2 linked regions of the Homo sapiens genome follow. The protein of the gene in region 1 purifies or fractionates together with the protein of each later gene. This does not show direct contact. Each region holds a gene or a part of one and is shown in the gene's direction. Other genes may lie near its edges.

What was found.
Region 2: the proteins of UGT2B28 (region 1) and POTEF purify together in Homo sapiens (affinity purification with mass spectrometry; one large-scale study listed by BioGRID and IntAct). This does not show direct contact.

The regions. Positions count from the first base shown.
Region 1 is NC_000004.12:69,279,143-69,283,579, forward strand, and holds the start of UGT2B28 (UDP-glucuronosyltransferase 2B28 isoform 1 precursor), read left to right. Parts: upstream 1-1,332; 5' UTR 1,333-1,358; coding exon 1,359-2,079; intron 2,080-3,371; coding exon 3,372-3,520; intron 3,521-4,437.
Region 2 is NC_000002.12:130,084,084-130,087,915, reverse strand, and holds part of POTEF (POTE ankyrin domain family member F), read left to right. Parts: intron 1-1,528; coding exon 1,529-1,573; intron 1,574-1,920; coding exon 1,921-2,102; intron 2,103-3,832.

The DNA.
Region 1 (4,437 bases):
GAACTCTGTGGAGGACTTACATTACCTCCTTCTGATGTAACTGTTGTCATATCAGAACTTAGTACCAATATACATTTGTAGAAAGGTGAAAAATCTGTTGCATTTTCTTCATTTTGACTTTGCATTTGAGATTTTTAACAGAAAGAAGTGGGATCAGTTGTACAGTGAAGTATTAGGTAAGTTAGTACTTAATTTATTCACTTTTCCCTCCAATATGTGGAAGGAAACCTTCCTTTTTGGGGTCTGTTAGAGTGTGTTTATAAATTGAAGTAAAAAATAACCTTTTTGGTTATGTGAAAGACAAGGGTGGGCAAGGTTGTGGAGACATTGAAACCCTCATACATTGTTGGTGAGAATAGAAAATTATTCACCCACTCTGAAAAAGTCTAGCAATTCCTCAAAAGATTACACTTACATTTACCACATAATTCAGTAATTGCCTTTCTAGGCATATCCCCAAGAAAAATAAAAACATGTCCACAGAAATCATGCACATCAATGTTAAACAATGCTATTCATAATGACCAAAAGTGGAAGTAAATCAGTATCCATCAACTATTAAATGAATAAATAAATTGTGTTTATAAATAGCATCTGATAACTATTTGGCAATAAAAATGAAGTCCTTATTTACACTATTCTATGGATGGTCCTTTAAAAACATTAAACTAAGTAAAGGAAGCCAGCCACAAAAGACCACATATTATATCGTTCCATTTACTTTTAGAAAGAGCCTGAATAGGTGTATTTCTAGAGGCAGAAATTAGATTACTGGTTGCCCAGTGCAGGGCGGGTGCAGAAATTTGGTGGGGAGATGAGAGCTAATACACAGGAGTTTTTTGTTTTTTTAGATAAAACTGATTGTTATGTTGGATGCACAAGTCTGTGAATTTACAAGGAAATACTTAATTTTAAATACTAATTGATGAATCATATGGTATTTGAATTATACTTCAACAAAGTTTTACAAGATATTCCTTGAACCACGATATTCAAAAACGCTATTTGCATTGTACGATCACTTCATCTCTTACTCTGTGTCAAGGGCCCTGCAGGACTCTCTCACTTGCCACTATTCTTGACACTATTATAAAATAGGTTACATAAAACAGGGTACTTGCAAGGTCATTAATCTTAGGTGGATGACAGCGAATATAAACATAAAAGAAACATCAAACATCCTTGAGTAAATATGAAGTAATCAAACTTTGTCTCCTTGTCATCCATGTACTCAGGATGCTCCTATAATATATTTACTTTGGATTGAAGGAGTTATGTTTTAACTTGATTGATTTATCTCTGTATATAAGTATGAGAAAGAAACAGTGACTTGAAAAGAATGATTGCATTGCACCAGGATGGCTCTGAAGTGGACTTCAGTTCTTCTGCTGATACATCTCGGTTGTTACTTTAGCTCTGGGAGTTGTGGAAAGGTGCTGGTGTGGACCGGTGAATACAGCCATTGGATGAATATGAAGACAATCCTGAAAGAGCTTGTTCAGAGAGGTCATGAGGTGACTGTACTGGCATCTTCAGCTTCCATTCTTTTTGATCCCAATGACGCATTCACTCTTAAACTCGAAGTTTATCCTACATCTTTAACTAAAACTGAATTTGAGAATATCATCATGCAACAGGTTAAGAGATGGTCAGACATTCAAAAAGATAGCTTTTGGTTATATTTTTCACAAGAACAAGAAATCCTGTGGGAATTTCATGACATATTTAGAAACTTCTGTAAAGATGTAGTTTCAAATAAGAAAGTTATGAAAAAACTACAAGAGTCAAGATTTGACATCATTTTTGCAGATGCTTTTTTTCCTTGTGGTGAGCTGCTGGCTGCGCTACTTAACATACCGTTTGTGTACAGTCTCTGCTTCACTCCTGGCTACACAATTGAAAGGCACAGTGGAGGACTGATTTTCCCTCCTTCCTACATACCTGTTGTTATGTCAAAATTAAGTGATCAAATGACTTTCATGGAGAGGGTAAAAAACATGATCTATGTGCTTTATTTTGACTTTTGGTTCCAAATGTGTGATATGAAGAAGTGGGATCAGTTTTACAGTGAAGTTTTAGGTAAGAATTTGTTTAATCGGGAACTTGAAGATCTAACTTATTTGTGTCTTTGAAGCAGAGCTTATATAAAGCCATAAAGTCAGGGAAGTGGAGTTTTTGGTAAGTGAATTTATGAAATGAAAATACAAGATGATCTATCAATCTCACAAACATTATAGAAAAGCTTAAATTATAAGGTCTGTTAAAACCCTGTGGCCATCACTCATACAGAACACCCCAGGAAATCATAAACCTATATATTAGTACACCTAAGACTTTAAGCAATTACACATCTGTTTTACTATATAATGTTTTAGATCTTAAAAACAGTGAAATCCATCAAGTAACATCTTACTGAATGCATAGATTTAGAATGAGTAATTACACATTTTTCTACAACTATCTATATAACTGCAGAAAGTTTTCCTTGTAAACCTCAGTTTTCTTTTTTAGGTATTAAAAGATATTCCCATGTTTCCAGAAGGTTTCCTTCACAGTAGAGAGAGATAATGTCCACATCTCAGATGCAAAAGTTAATCAGGGTAATTTGAAGTTTCTAATGTTTCTATACTCCTTCACTAAAGAATTGGAATTCATTCATTTAAAGTCCAATTATCTTGTTGAAGTGTGAAGGTTGTTATATCTATATAGTTTATTTGAAACTATGTCTCTTTATTTAAAAATATGAGACAGATTAAGGTTGAGTACAGATCTCTATTTCAATAATTTCTCAAAAATTTCTAGCTATAATTTACAAATATATTTACTTAAATGATAATATTATTAAGATCTTAGCTCAAATCCAAATGAGTAGTTGGTACAAGGATTTCTGCCATACTCTCAAAATAGTCCGAGTTCACTTGAAGAACCAAAGATAAAAGGATTAGCTTAAGGAGTTGTGTAAACTGGACTGTTAGAAAATTGGTTTTATGGGTACAGTAGAATTAATTGATTATGGAGCTCAAAGAGTTGTTTAAATATCTATATGCAACTATTGAAGCTTTAAAGAGAAAATAAATTGATGTTTAATTTTCTATGACTTATTTTAATAATTGTGAGTACACTGACTTGACATTAGAGATGTCGCTTAACTTCATAATTCTCCCACCACTTTGCCTTTCTTATAAATAAACATGGACAAAATATATAATACATAAAAATATATTATTCATATACATGAATATATGTATATATTTTTCAAAGCACACAAACTTTACCTACATCTTTGCCTACATAATTCTAACCCCTTTCAGAAAGTTATGTAAAGTAATTATCTTACATCATCCACTTTTTCTTTTCTTTATTCCTGTCAGGAAGACCCACTACCTTATTTGAGACAATGGGGAAAGCTGACATATGGCTTATGCGAAACTCCTGGAGTTTTCAATTTCCTCATCCATTCTTACCAAACATTGATTTTGTTGGAGGACTCCACTGCAAACCTGCCAAACCCCTACCTAAGGTAAACATACTTTCGTTGGTTTTATTTTGTTGGCTTCGAAGTTTCAGTAGAAATGAGTCTATAGCCTTCATTCAAAATGTTTGACTTACACTGAAAGAAAGATGGGAAGTAGGTGGTGTAAAGCAGATACCAAATAGAAACTCATGTATATGTTAATACCATCACATGTATGTGAGTTTTATGCATATTACAAATAGAGAGGAATAGTAAGGAGACTTTGAAAATAGGGTTGATTAAAGTCTTGATTATGCAACACCTAAGGAGGTATTTGTCATTCATTCAAAGAATATTTATAAAGGGATTAGCACAAAACACAAGTAAGTGCAGAAATTTCAGAGAAAAAAAATAGACAGTTTCCGTCTGCACATACCTTACATTCTACTTTGAAATATAGAAAAGTAACTAATGAAAATGTTTTAAAAAACTATTATCTCAAGGAAAAACCCAATATCAAGAAAGCATCAGTGGAGATAATAGAAAGTATCCTGGAGTCATGGATTAGTAAGATGAGAGCTGAACAATATGCAGAAATAGGTAAAAGAATGGCGGGGAGAGGCAGACAAAAAGGGAAAGCAGATAAAGTGGTCAGGACAGTTCTCAAGTCCTCAGGTTTTGTTTTTAGGGAATGATTAAGAATCTAGATCATACTAAGAGGTAAATTAGAGCCAGATACATATTAGGAGTGGAAATATTTATTAAGAACATTGAAAAACTACTAAAAAGAGTTAAGAAATAAATATATATGAAACGATTCTCTTTTTTAAGAAGAGCCTCCAAGATATTCAATGGATTAAATTACAGAAGGGCCACACTGTAAAGAGCCAACCATTTAGGAAATTTTCCATGGATTCAGGTAGAAGATGATGGAAAAGTGGACTAGAAAGTTGATAGAAATAATTATGCCTACATTTGCTAAA
Region 2 (3,832 bases), on another chromosome or scaffold:
TCACGCCTGTAATCCCAGCACTTTGAGAGGCTGAGGCAGGTGGATCACGAGGTCTGGAGATCGAGACCATCCTGGCTAACATGGTGAAACCCCGTCTCTAGTAAAAATACAAAAACTTAGCTGGGCGTGGTGGTGGGTGCCTGTAGTCCCAGCTACTCGGGAGGCTGAGGCAGGAGAATGGCATGAACCCAGGAGAGGGAGCTTGCAGTGAGCCGACATCCACCACTACACTCCAGCCTGGGTGACAGAGCGAGACTCCATGTGAAAAAAAAAAAAAAAAAAATTTTAATAGATTCTTAAAATTTATTGTAATAAAATCAGCAACCTTATTAACAGAAGAATCAATAGATTCTAATTTAATATTTGATATTTAACTTCAACATAACCCACTATAAAATTTAAAATACTCTTATTTTAAAATATTCTTATCTGCCTTCTTGATTAGCTTATAGCTAATCTCTCCTTTTGGAATAGAGGCAAAAACAAATTTCAGAACTTTGTTTGTTCTTTTATTTTTACAACACCCTAACATGATAAAGAAAGTAACATCAATGATTGAATCATATTATTAAGCAATAGGAATTATGAACAATGTAACACTGATTCCCTGAGCTGGATTCATGGTTAAAGAGTAATCATGGCCTGTGATTGAAAATCCACAGTTTTATATTGTCAGTCACTGATACCAAGGTTAAGGACATATCCTGCCTTGTGGTCTCTCGTTGACCTCAGTGTTTCTGTTCAGGGAGGGAACCAGGTCATAAAAGCAACCCAACTGCCTATTACAAGAACCATATCTTGCAGAATGGGACCTTTGGTGTTAGTGCACAAACACAATAACATTCTAATTTATTTCAGTTGCAGAAAATCAGTAGAGATTAAAAAATTTTATCTGCTGTCATTAGTACACATTAGAATATATTAGAACTGGACTTACGCAGATAATCTGGATACATAACACTATCATATGACAGTATATAATTTCAATTAAAATGTGAGAATTTGCATTTCTTTCTGTTTGGTGTTGATTTCGGCTCCTAATAGTTTAAAGGGTGCCTACAATCCAGTTAGGAATCTTTTAAAAAAGCACTTCAGTGCACTGTAGGTGCTCACTAGTTAGGGTTTCATGAGGTAAACTCTTTTCAAGTGAGGAAGATTTTGGAACACTACAAATCATCTGCTGATTCATTTTTGGTAGATTTAACACATAACAAATTAAATTTAGTCCAAACAAATAGTGAGAAAGTTAAGTTTGCTGGTTCATGTTTTTCTTCTCCCTTTGTCTAAGGTGAATTATTTTTCACATGTTAGAAGCCAGTGATGTGGCAGTAGCTAAACATAGATTAAAAAGTTAATTCTTAATTTTAATTATTATTTATTTTAACAGTTTAATTTTAATTACTTTCTAATTTTTATTGTCCATACTTGATTACTTCAGAATAAAATTATTTTAAAAACATGCACTCCAAAAGAGGAAATGTCACAGAAATACAACAAGCAAATTAACCTTCTGTTTTTACATCTGCAGAAAAGATCTCAAGAACCAGAAATAAATAAGGATGGTGATAGAGAGGTATACCTTTATATTCAAACGTTTGTGTTGAATTAGATTTTTACATTATGTTGTTTAACAAAGTGTAGTAAATGTAGGCATACATGATCCTATCATGTAAGTAGCATAAATCATCAGTGAAAAATTAAATAGTTAACTCAGAATTCTGTACATTGAATTTTGAAGAGGTGCAAACCCTAGAGCTATTCTTTCATTATTATGGAATAATCCCGAATGGTGCCATAAAATGCTAGGTAATGCCACTTTAGGAGCTTTAGACCAATTATTTTATCTTTCTTGGTTTTAGTCTGATTATCAATAGATAATGTGCCTAAAGTAGATAATTTCTTATTCTCTGTATTTTCCAGCTAGAAAATTTTATGGCTATCGAAGAAATGAAGAAGCACAGAAGTACTCATGTCGGATTCCCAGAAAACCTGACTAATGGTGCCACTGCTGGCAATGGTGATGATGGATTAATTCCTCCAAGGAAGAGCAGAACACCTGAAAGCCAGCAATTTCCTGACACTGAGAATGAAGAGTATCACAGGTAAGCCTATGGCAACATTGAACAGGAGGTAACTTTGTGCTGCCAAACTAATCCTAATTTGAGCTAATATTCATGATGAACAAATTTTATACTTTTATTAGGATATTGAGCCTTGCCTGTTAATCAGAAAAATGAAAATCAGCAAACAATCAGTTACCGTTTTTTTTCCAGTCATTAATTTATTTGAAAAATAACCAGTATTGGCAAATGTGAGGGAAAAGACATTTTCTTCTCTTTTCAGTGAACTTTTATTTTAGCTTCGGGGTACGTGTGCAGGTTTATTATATAGGTAAACTGTATCATGGAGGCTTGGGGTACAGATTATTTCACCAGCCACATAGTAAACAAAATACTCGAAAGGTAGTTTTTTGGTCGTCTCCCTCCTGCCATGCTCCTCCCTCAAGTAGGCCCCAGTGTATGTTATTCTCCTCTTTGTGTCCATGAGTTCTCATGTTTAGTTCCCACTAATGAGTAAGAATATGTGGCATTTGATTTTCTGTTCCTGCATGAGTTTTCTTAGGATAATGGCCTCCAGCTCCATCCGTGTTGCTGCAGGGGAAATGGTTTCATTGAAAAAGACATTTCATATACTGTTGGTAAATACATTTTGAACATTAATTGAGTAGCATATTCACACACACATATATAACAGTAAGCATATATAATACATGTAAAGGATATTTGTATAGATATGTTATATGTATACTTATGTATAAGGACATTTATTATAGTATTATGTAAAAAATTTGGAGCTAGTCTAATTCCTTATCAATAGGAAATAGCTCAATTTCCATATCCCCAAAATAATGTATTATGCAACCATTTTTAAAAAATGAGGTTAGATGTAGGGTATACTGATTATTTCACAATTAAAATGTATTTAAAGCGTTTAGTTTGATGACACATCTTAAGAGTTCTTGTTAAATTTCTTGTAATATCTGCTGTGTTGCAAATGGAAGCTACATGCTACATTGACACTGTACCTTGTTAGCAACAAGATTGCTAGTTACTAAATTTTTGTTGTCAGTGCCTGAGTGCTGAAATATTGGACCCTCAATCTGAATATTGCCAAGCGATTGTACATGGGGATCTATATTTAATATAAACATTTCAGTATATTTGGTAAAACTTTTATTAAAATACATCAAAGAATCTTTGATCTACTAAACCAGGAGTTGGCCAGCTTTTTCTGCAAAGAGCTAGTTAGTAAATATTTTAGGCTTTGTGGACTACATATATTGATTTTCTTGAGACAGGGTCTCACTCTGTTTCCCAGGCTGGAGTGCAGTTGTGTGATCATGGCTGACTGCAGCCTCGACTTTCTGGGCTCTAGTGATCCTCTGACCTCAGTCTCTACTAGCTGAGACCACGGGTGTGCAACATCACACCCAGCTAACTGACACTATGGACTGTAAAGTGAATAAGCATGGCTGTGTTCCAAGATACTTGACTTACAAAAACGGGCAGTGGGCTGGATTTGGCCCACAGGTGCTTATTTGCTGACCCTTGTGCTAAAAGGAAGGTGCTGCTAATGCAGTGACTTTTATTTGTAAAAGTGCCCTGCATGTGTGACATTATCCTCCCTTTGAGAAAAGGATATATTTCAGTATTTACCTCACCATATTTTTCCAGTGACTTCATATGATTTTGAAAACTACATTTATAAAATAAGATTATTTTCTGCATTTCTCCCACTTTATTCCTGTTAATAGAACTCAGTATTTTACTGT